Linked DNA regions of Homo sapiens. The protein of the gene in region 1 purifies or fractionates together with the protein of each later gene. This does not show direct contact. Each region holds a gene or a part of one and is shown in the gene's direction. Other genes may lie near its edges.

Region 1 (4,356 bases):
CACCAATCTCCACAAGCACTCTCATCTCAGGGTGCCTCGGGGAGGGCAGAGGAGGAATACTTGGGCTCAAAAGTCGTCTTTGGACCACTTTCAGATCAGTCTGGTGGAAACGGTAGTGTGAGCGCTATGCTACTTGAGACTGCGTTTGAAAATCTCTTTCACGTTCCCAAATCAAAGCCACTTTGAGGTTTAAGAATGATAACCACAGGTGAATGCCTTACTCTTTCCACGAGCCAGGCCTTTCCTTTGCATGACGCAGACCGGCGGCTGAGACCCGTCCTGAGGCCCCGCCTTTCATTCGGTTTATGTGGCCCCGCGCAGTTCACGCAGTTTTCTCCGTTCTTAGGCAACCAGCTCGTGGGAAATTCACTCCAGAAAAGCGTGCGCCATATCATTATTTTGCGATTCAACAAACTTTTTCAACTGTTGTTCAGGAACTAGATTCCAGATAGATCTTGTTGTGTTCGGCCTTCCTAGAAATTCCTTTTCCAGAGGAAGAAGATCCGGGTTGGGAAGAGTGCGTGACTATGGCCCCGGGCTCATTGAAAGACTCCTCCCCACAAAAGTTTAGGGCTGATACTAAACGAAGCTATGGAGCCATGCCCACACAAATACTCCCCCTTTACCCGAATTGTGGGGCCTGGACTGTGAAGGCCTTCGCTGCAAGAGCGGGCACTGGCGAACTTCAGTGCACGCCGCGGCCGAGAACGGATGCAGGGCGGGGGATGGCTGAGCCGCCTGATCCTTGCAGAGAACCTGCAGGGGCCCTCGGAGGGTATCCCCTGCGTCCAAGGGAGCGCCCCTCCTTTTCAGCACTCGGGGGAACTGAGGGCGACGTGCCAGCCCCGCACTCAACTTTCCCCTTCCCTGCAGGCACAGAGTTGGCCGGCGGGGGCAGAGGAGGAGCTGGGTCTCCACTGCGCCCGTTTAAACCTGGCCAGGGGCTGCGTTTCCTCCCCCCACCCCACGACGATCCTTTCTTAGTCTTCGCTTTTCAACCCAATCGTTAATCATTCGGAACGCGCGGGCGGGGAGCGGCGAGGAGGGCGAGCTCGGGGTTCGCCGCCGCCGCCGCCGCCGCGCGCGCGCGCTCAGGAAGCGGTGTGGCTGTCACCCCCTCCCGGGCCTCCTCCCCCCTCCTTCCTGCTTTGCTCCCCCTCCTTCCTCCCCTCCTCCCCGCTCCGCCGCCCGCGCCCAGTGTATCTACTCCCTCCCCACGTCACTCGCCAGCGCGCCATGCAAATCACCGCCGCCGCCGGCTCCCATTGGCCGCGGCGCGCTCATTTAATGGCAGCCCGGGCCCGGCGTATGGCTGCTGGGCCCCGCGCGCCGCCGGCCCCGCGTGCGCCTCCGCTCCGAGCGCACGGCCCCGGGCAGGCAGCGGGCAGCCCATCCCGGGCTCGGCGGCCCCGGCTCTCCGGCCCTCTCCGCGAGCCCGCGCTCCTCCCGCTGTCCCCGGGCCCCTCCCTGGCTGCACCGTAATCGCCCCCTGCAGGCCCCCCTGCGCCTCCCCCCCCCCGCCACTGGCGCCTGGCTTCCCCCGGGCACCTGGGACCAGCACATGCCCAGCGCACGCGGCGCGCCGCCCTGCTAGAAGTTGCAGCCTCCGAGTTGGAGGCCGCTGAGGACCGAGCGCAGGAGGAAGGAGACAGCGCGCAGCGGCGGCCGGCGAGGAGACAGCACACCCCGGGCCGGGCCCAGCGCACCGCTCCCGGCCCCAAAAGCGGAGCTGCAACTTGGCCACGACTGCACCTGTTTGCACCGCTCCGCCGAGGGCGCCTGGGCTGCGGTGGCGGCGAAGACGGCGACCCCGACCGTCGGCCTCTTTGGCAAGTGGTTTGTGCATCAGGAGAAACTTTCCACCTGCGAGCCGAACCGGCGCCGAGTGCGTGTGTTTCTGCCTTTTTTTGTTGTCGTTGCCTCCACCCCTCCCCATTCTTCTCTCCGCTAGGACCCCCCCGCCCCCGTCTCACTCCGTCTGAATTCCTCTCCGTCTCCCTCCCACCCCGGCCGTCTATGCTCCAGGCCCTCTCCTCGCGGTGCCGGTGAACCCGCCAGCCGCCCCGATGTACAGCATGATGATGGAGACCGACCTGCACTCGCCCGGCGGCGCCCAGGCCCCCACGAACCTCTCGGGCCCCGCCGGGGCGGGCGGCGGCGGGGGCGGAGGCGGGGGCGGCGGCGGCGGCGGGGGCGCCAAGGCCAACCAGGACCGGGTCAAACGGCCCATGAACGCCTTCATGGTGTGGTCCCGCGGGCAGCGGCGCAAGATGGCCCAGGAGAACCCCAAGATGCACAACTCGGAGATCAGCAAGCGCCTGGGGGCCGAGTGGAAGGTCATGTCCGAGGCCGAGAAGCGGCCGTTCATCGACGAGGCCAAGCGGCTGCGCGCGCTGCACATGAAGGAGCACCCGGATTACAAGTACCGGCCGCGCCGCAAGACCAAGACGCTGCTCAAGAAGGACAAGTACTCGCTGGCCGGCGGGCTCCTGGCGGCCGGCGCGGGTGGCGGCGGCGCGGCTGTGGCCATGGGCGTGGGCGTGGGCGTGGGCGCGGCGGCCGTGGGCCAGCGCCTGGAGAGCCCAGGCGGCGCGGCGGGCGGCGGCTACGCGCACGTCAACGGCTGGGCCAACGGCGCCTACCCCGGCTCGGTGGCGGCGGCGGCGGCGGCCGCGGCCATGATGCAGGAGGCGCAGCTGGCCTACGGGCAGCACCCGGGCGCGGGCGGCGCGCACCCGCACGCGCACCCCGCGCACCCGCACCCGCACCACCCGCACGCGCACCCGCACAACCCGCAGCCCATGCACCGCTACGACATGGGCGCGCTGCAGTACAGCCCCATCTCCAACTCGCAGGGCTACATGAGCGCGTCGCCCTCGGGCTACGGCGGCCTCCCCTACGGCGCCGCGGCCGCCGCCGCCGCCGCTGCGGGCGGCGCGCACCAGAACTCGGCCGTGGCGGCGGCGGCGGCGGCGGCGGCCGCGTCGTCGGGCGCCCTGGGCGCGCTGGGCTCTCTGGTGAAGTCGGAGCCCAGCGGCAGCCCGCCCGCCCCAGCGCACTCGCGGGCGCCGTGCCCCGGGGACCTGCGCGAGATGATCAGCATGTACTTGCCCGCCGGCGAGGGGGGCGACCCGGCGGCGGCAGCAGCGGCCGCGGCGCAGAGCCGGCTGCACTCGCTGCCGCAGCACTACCAGGGCGCGGGCGCGGGCGTGAACGGCACGGTGCCCCTGACGCACATCTAGCGCCTTCGGGACGCCGGGGACTCTGCGGCGGCGACCCACGAGCTCGCGGCCCGCGCCCGGCTCCCGCCCCGCCCCGGCGCGGCGTGGCTTTTGTACAGACGTTCCCACATTCTTGTCAAAAGGAAAATACTGGAGACGAACGCCGGGTGACGCGTGTCCCCCACTCACCTTCCCCGGAGACCCTGGCGACCGCCGGGCGCTGACACCAGACTTGGGTTTTAGACTGAACTTCGGTGTTTTCTTGAGACTTTTTGTACAGTATTTATCACCTACGGAGGAAGCGGAAAGCGTTTTCTTTGCTCGAGGGGACAAAAAAGTCAAAACGAGGCGAGAGGCGAAGCCCACTTTTGTATACCGGCCGGCGCGCTCACTTTCCTCCGCGTTGCTTCCGGACGGCGCCGACCGCCGGAGCCCAAGTGACGCGGAGCTCGTCGCATTTGTTATAAATGTAGTAAGGCAGGTCCAAGCACTTACAAGTTTTTTGTAGTTGTTACCGCTCTTTTGGGTTGGTTTGTTAATTTATACAAAGAGATTACCACCACCACCCCCTCCTTCAGACGGCGGAGTTATATTCTGGGTTTTGTAAAACTTTATGTATCTGAGCATTTCCATTTTTTTTTTTGGGTTTTGTATTATTTCTTGTAAATGCATTGTGAAAAATTTTATTTTCGGCGTTGCAATGCGGGGAGGAGAAGTCAGATTATGTACATAGTTTTCTAAAAAGCCTTTCTTCTAAAAACGAAAAAAGACCCCCCACCCAAAATGTTTCGAGTCAACAAATTTAAGAGACAGAGCCCATTTTCTCCATAAATTTGTAACATGCTATTTTTATGTGCATGTTTTATGAGTTCAAAATGCAATGAGGAAATCTGACAGGGAAATTATCTGTATGAACTAAAAGTAAGGGAACCCCGGGGAATGGGAGGACAGGATTTTTCAAGGAACCTTTTTCAATGAAAGAGAAGGAAGTTAAAACCTATAGGTTATTTTGTAGAGCTGAGTGTTAATACGGGCCGAGAAATAAAAGTATCTTCTGCTCCGGCTGTTTCACTGCGGACGGCTGGGGCTGCTGCGCGTTACCTTGCTGCAAGCGGGGCGCCTTCCACCTGGCTGG
Region 2 (3,809 bases), on another chromosome or scaffold:
TAGATTGCTTTTTAAGAATATTCCATGAACAGAAGCAGTAAAGATTCCTCCTGGTAGTTTAGTTAAGCCTTCTCTCAATGGAATTATCATCCCCTTCTCTTCAGCACCCTGTTTTTCTTAGTTAAATTGTCTAAATTATCTGTGCTGGAACTTTGAGATAAATTCTTTCCCATTGATACTTCGTATTATAAAAGACAGACATTTCCTGAGTACCTGATGCACGTGGGTCTTTGCCATCTTTGCTGGGAGAAATCATGTCCTAAGACCACTTTAAATCATGTCTTGAAAGATTATGAATTTAGGTAGAGAGACTTTTTTAGAATAAAATAGCCGTAACACCATTTGGTTTGATTGTGTTGTGGGGAATGAAGGAAATAAGGATCGAAGTTGCTGAAAGGCTTCACCTGGACAGTAACCCCTTGAAGTGGAGTGTGGCAGACGTTGTGCGGTTCATCAGATCCACTGACTGTGCTCCATTAGCAAGAATATTCCTAGACCAGGTAATCACAGATACCTATAATTTTTAGTAATGTCTCTTTAGCAATAAATTATGGATGTAATAGTCAACAATTTATTTACAAGTTTTAGGAAAAATGTTTTGATCCAAAAGACAAGAATTGTCTTAATTCCATTTTTAGGAGTCAAAGATGATAAAAAGTTATTTATCAGACTTGCTTCATAGTTGAAGGAGATTATCATTGCATTCCAGTTTTTCCTAAGAATTTGATTCCATCCCTCCAATATCAAGCATACCATGCTTAATTGTCCACATCTTTTCAAAAATAATGATTTGCTTGTTTAAAAAAAAATAGCATCTGTCACATTAGGCTCTAGAGTGGTGATAAGTTTTAAGGCAAGCTTGCTGAAACACAGTCAGTGGCCTTAAACATTGAAATAAGTTTTGTTTAGAAAATTAGGGAGATTCAAGAGCTTATCGGGTTTTTATGAATGTTACAGAGTAGGAAAACATTGAAGTTGATAGTTAATCCTTTGTTTCAGATTTAGAAGGAACCCTCTAAAAAGATGGCACAATTAGTTGCCAGTTACAGGGCTAGTCAGTTTACTAAATTTCTATGGGACAGAGACTCTGGAATGGATTCTTATCCTTGGTAAAACTTTATTGTCCTCAGTAAAACTTTATTAATTCTGAAGCTTCATTAGTGTGGAAGACTATGGAGTCACTTAAAAGGAAGTGTGTGATACCTAAGACGAAAAAGTAAGGAAAGGAAAGCATAGGGATTCCAGTTTTGACAGAGCTAAAGTGAGGAGAGGCTGTCATGATCAAGCTGCCTTTCATGTGCACATCACAGATAATTTGTCTTTTATGCTTTAACAGGAAATTGATGGGCAGGCCCTGTTGCTCCTTACCCTTCCCACTGTTCAAGAATGCATGGACTTAAAATTGGGCCCTGCCATCAAACTTTGCCATCACATAGAGAGGATCAAGTTTGCTTTTTATGAGCAGTTTGCCAACTGAGAAGGACAACCAAAGTGAGCTGGATCTTTGAAGCACAAATGCAGCAAATCCTTCACCCTGCTTTATAAGTGGAGCTGGAATAGTCCTGGGGCTCTGGGGCCTGCAGGTATCAGCTTGCTCTCTTTGCACTTTCGGGGAAGGAGGACTCACAGTGAGGAAGCAAAAACTGTGCACAGAAGTGGATCACCTGCTGGTGGAAATGTGGACATCTCTTGTTCAGCAGATGGCAGTTTTTAAAAAATAAAGGTTGTGAGGAAAAGACTTATATAAGAAGAAAAGCATTTCCAGTGGTGTGGCCTGAAAACAAAGAATAACCTAGGCTGCTGGAAAGCACCCTTTTGGTTGTTTTCATTCTGTTCCCTCCCATTGTAGATTGAACTTTGTTCTCTGCTTTCTTTTTCTTGGAAAGAGAGGACTTAGCTTTAAGTCAGCACTGATTTGGGACTGTTCCTAAGGCATATCAGTGCTTCATTGTCATTGTGTTTTTAAACTTTTTAAAATTAAAACAGTTCATTTTGGGGATGATTATGTGGCTCTAGGGTTTTGAATGTATAGTCACACTTTGATCATTTTAAAATCGATTCTTAGGAGTTCCTTTGTTTACTACCTCTGTTGATAATTGAGCTTACAGCCATGTATGAGGTTTTTTGTATGATGCCATTTTTAAGCTACATAAACACTAAAATTATGACAGAATTTGGAGGGGGGGAAACTGTTTGCTTTCTTAAAAACATTATATGGGGCACTTACACCAGTTCCTTAACTGACCTGATCTGAGAACTCTACTGTTACTGTTCTCCATCTTGACCCAGCCGAGGCTGCCTGTGTTAAGTAACATCACCAAGACTGTTAGTATTTCTGTTTAATTGCCCTCTTCCTATTCATTCTCAGAGGGACTTCAGTGACTTTTATTTTGTGTTTACTTTTCTCTAGAGTTGTTTGTCTACCTCTGTTTCATTTCTAAGGTCTTTACTTTGGGTGAAAATCAGTAAGTGTTCCATGGACCCACAGCGAAGCCCATTTGTCCTTCTTTCCAGGTGTCTCCAGTGTAGAAGCACAGCACAGAAAACATGTTTTGGAGGGTAACGCAGAGCATGGAGTTTCTGTTAGCAGTGTCCTCAGTGGCAGGATAAATACTGAGATGTGGTTAAGGATTCTGGAAACCTCTTTGCCTAGCCACACTTAGACTTTTTTCAGCTAATCCTTTAAATTGAATATAATCTTTAGTCCGAGGATTCCCATTTAAACAACTCAGTATTCTTTTAAGTGTGTCTTTTAGCCCAGCTCAAGTTAACATGAAACTCCAGGTGAATTTTCACTTACTATTCCATTGCTAGCTATTATAGAATAATAGCGTTTGCTGCACTATTCTAGTCATGAGGAGTGAGGAAAAACATACATAGGTTGTCTCCCTTAAATGGTTTGCTTTGCTGAATTTTTTTTATCCTAATCACCTGCAAATTTATAACCCAATCATTCTTCCTCAAGATTTGAAAATGTTTTAATCCTGCAAACTGGGTGAATTCTAAACAGCTCTACAAATATAAGGAAATATTACAGCAAATTTTAACTGATTGTGATTTTTTTTTCCCATTCCCCACCACCCCAACCTATTTTTGTGGACATTGATGAATAATCTGGAGCCTCTCTTCATTGGGTAATTCATAAACCAACTTAACTCAAGCCCTGCAACTAAATCATACATTAAATCATTAACTCTTCACTTAGGTTCCTACCAGATCTATCTGGGAAGAAGCTTCATTTAAGTAAAAATTAGTATGTTTGAAACTTAGAGATCCAGTTTTTAAAAATTTAAATCTGTGTCTGTGGAAGACAAGGATATATAGGGAATGCTAGGGAATAATTAGCATTAAACATTAAGCTTTTGGTGGGTAGTGGTGGTAATCTTGCTTAATGAAATTTCCTGAGAGTTCAGTCAAGGTACTAAGGAAAAGAGGGCCCCTTGAGGAAGAATAATGGAACAGAATTTCTGGAATTAATGTTTAGGGCCTCGTGTTATTATCTTATTTAGGAAAGTGAAATATATTTCCTATAAGAGGGAATTTACCAAACACAAGAACAATGAATGCTTTATTTTGTCTCTCTTTTGACTTCTCCAGAAACCACAGAATTAAGAATCATCTCCCTTCACAGGTGAGGGGATGAAGGCGCTGAAGGGCAAAACATACAGCCCTACGTAGTCTCTGATCTAGGTAGAGTCAGAGCCCAACAGGCTTGTTTATACCATGATTATTCAGGCTCAGCCCGTTCCTAGAGAAAGGCTGACTCTAAATGGTCAAGTAAGTTGAGTTTCCCTTAATATTTCTTGCAT

The links.
Region 2: the proteins of SOX1 (region 1) and SFMBT1 purify together in Homo sapiens (affinity purification with mass spectrometry; one large-scale study listed by BioGRID and IntAct). This does not show direct contact.

The regions. Positions count from the first base shown.
Region 1 is NC_000013.11:112,065,593-112,069,948, forward strand, and holds the start of SOX1 (transcription factor SOX-1), read left to right. Parts: upstream 1-1,556; 5' UTR 1,557-2,066; coding exon 2,067-3,242; 3' UTR 3,243-4,356. UniProt on the Homo sapiens protein: Transcriptional activator. May function as a switch in neuronal development. Keeps neural cells undifferentiated by counteracting the activity of proneural proteins and suppresses neuronal differentiation.
Region 2 is NC_000003.12:52,902,804-52,906,612, reverse strand, and holds the end of SFMBT1 (scm-like with four MBT domains protein 1), read left to right. Parts: intron 1-371; coding exon 372-500; intron 501-1,336; coding exon 1,337-1,477; 3' UTR 1,478-3,041; downstream 3,042-3,809. UniProt on the Homo sapiens protein: Histone-binding protein, which is part of various corepressor complexes. Mediates the recruitment of corepressor complexes to target genes, followed by chromatin compaction and repression of transcription.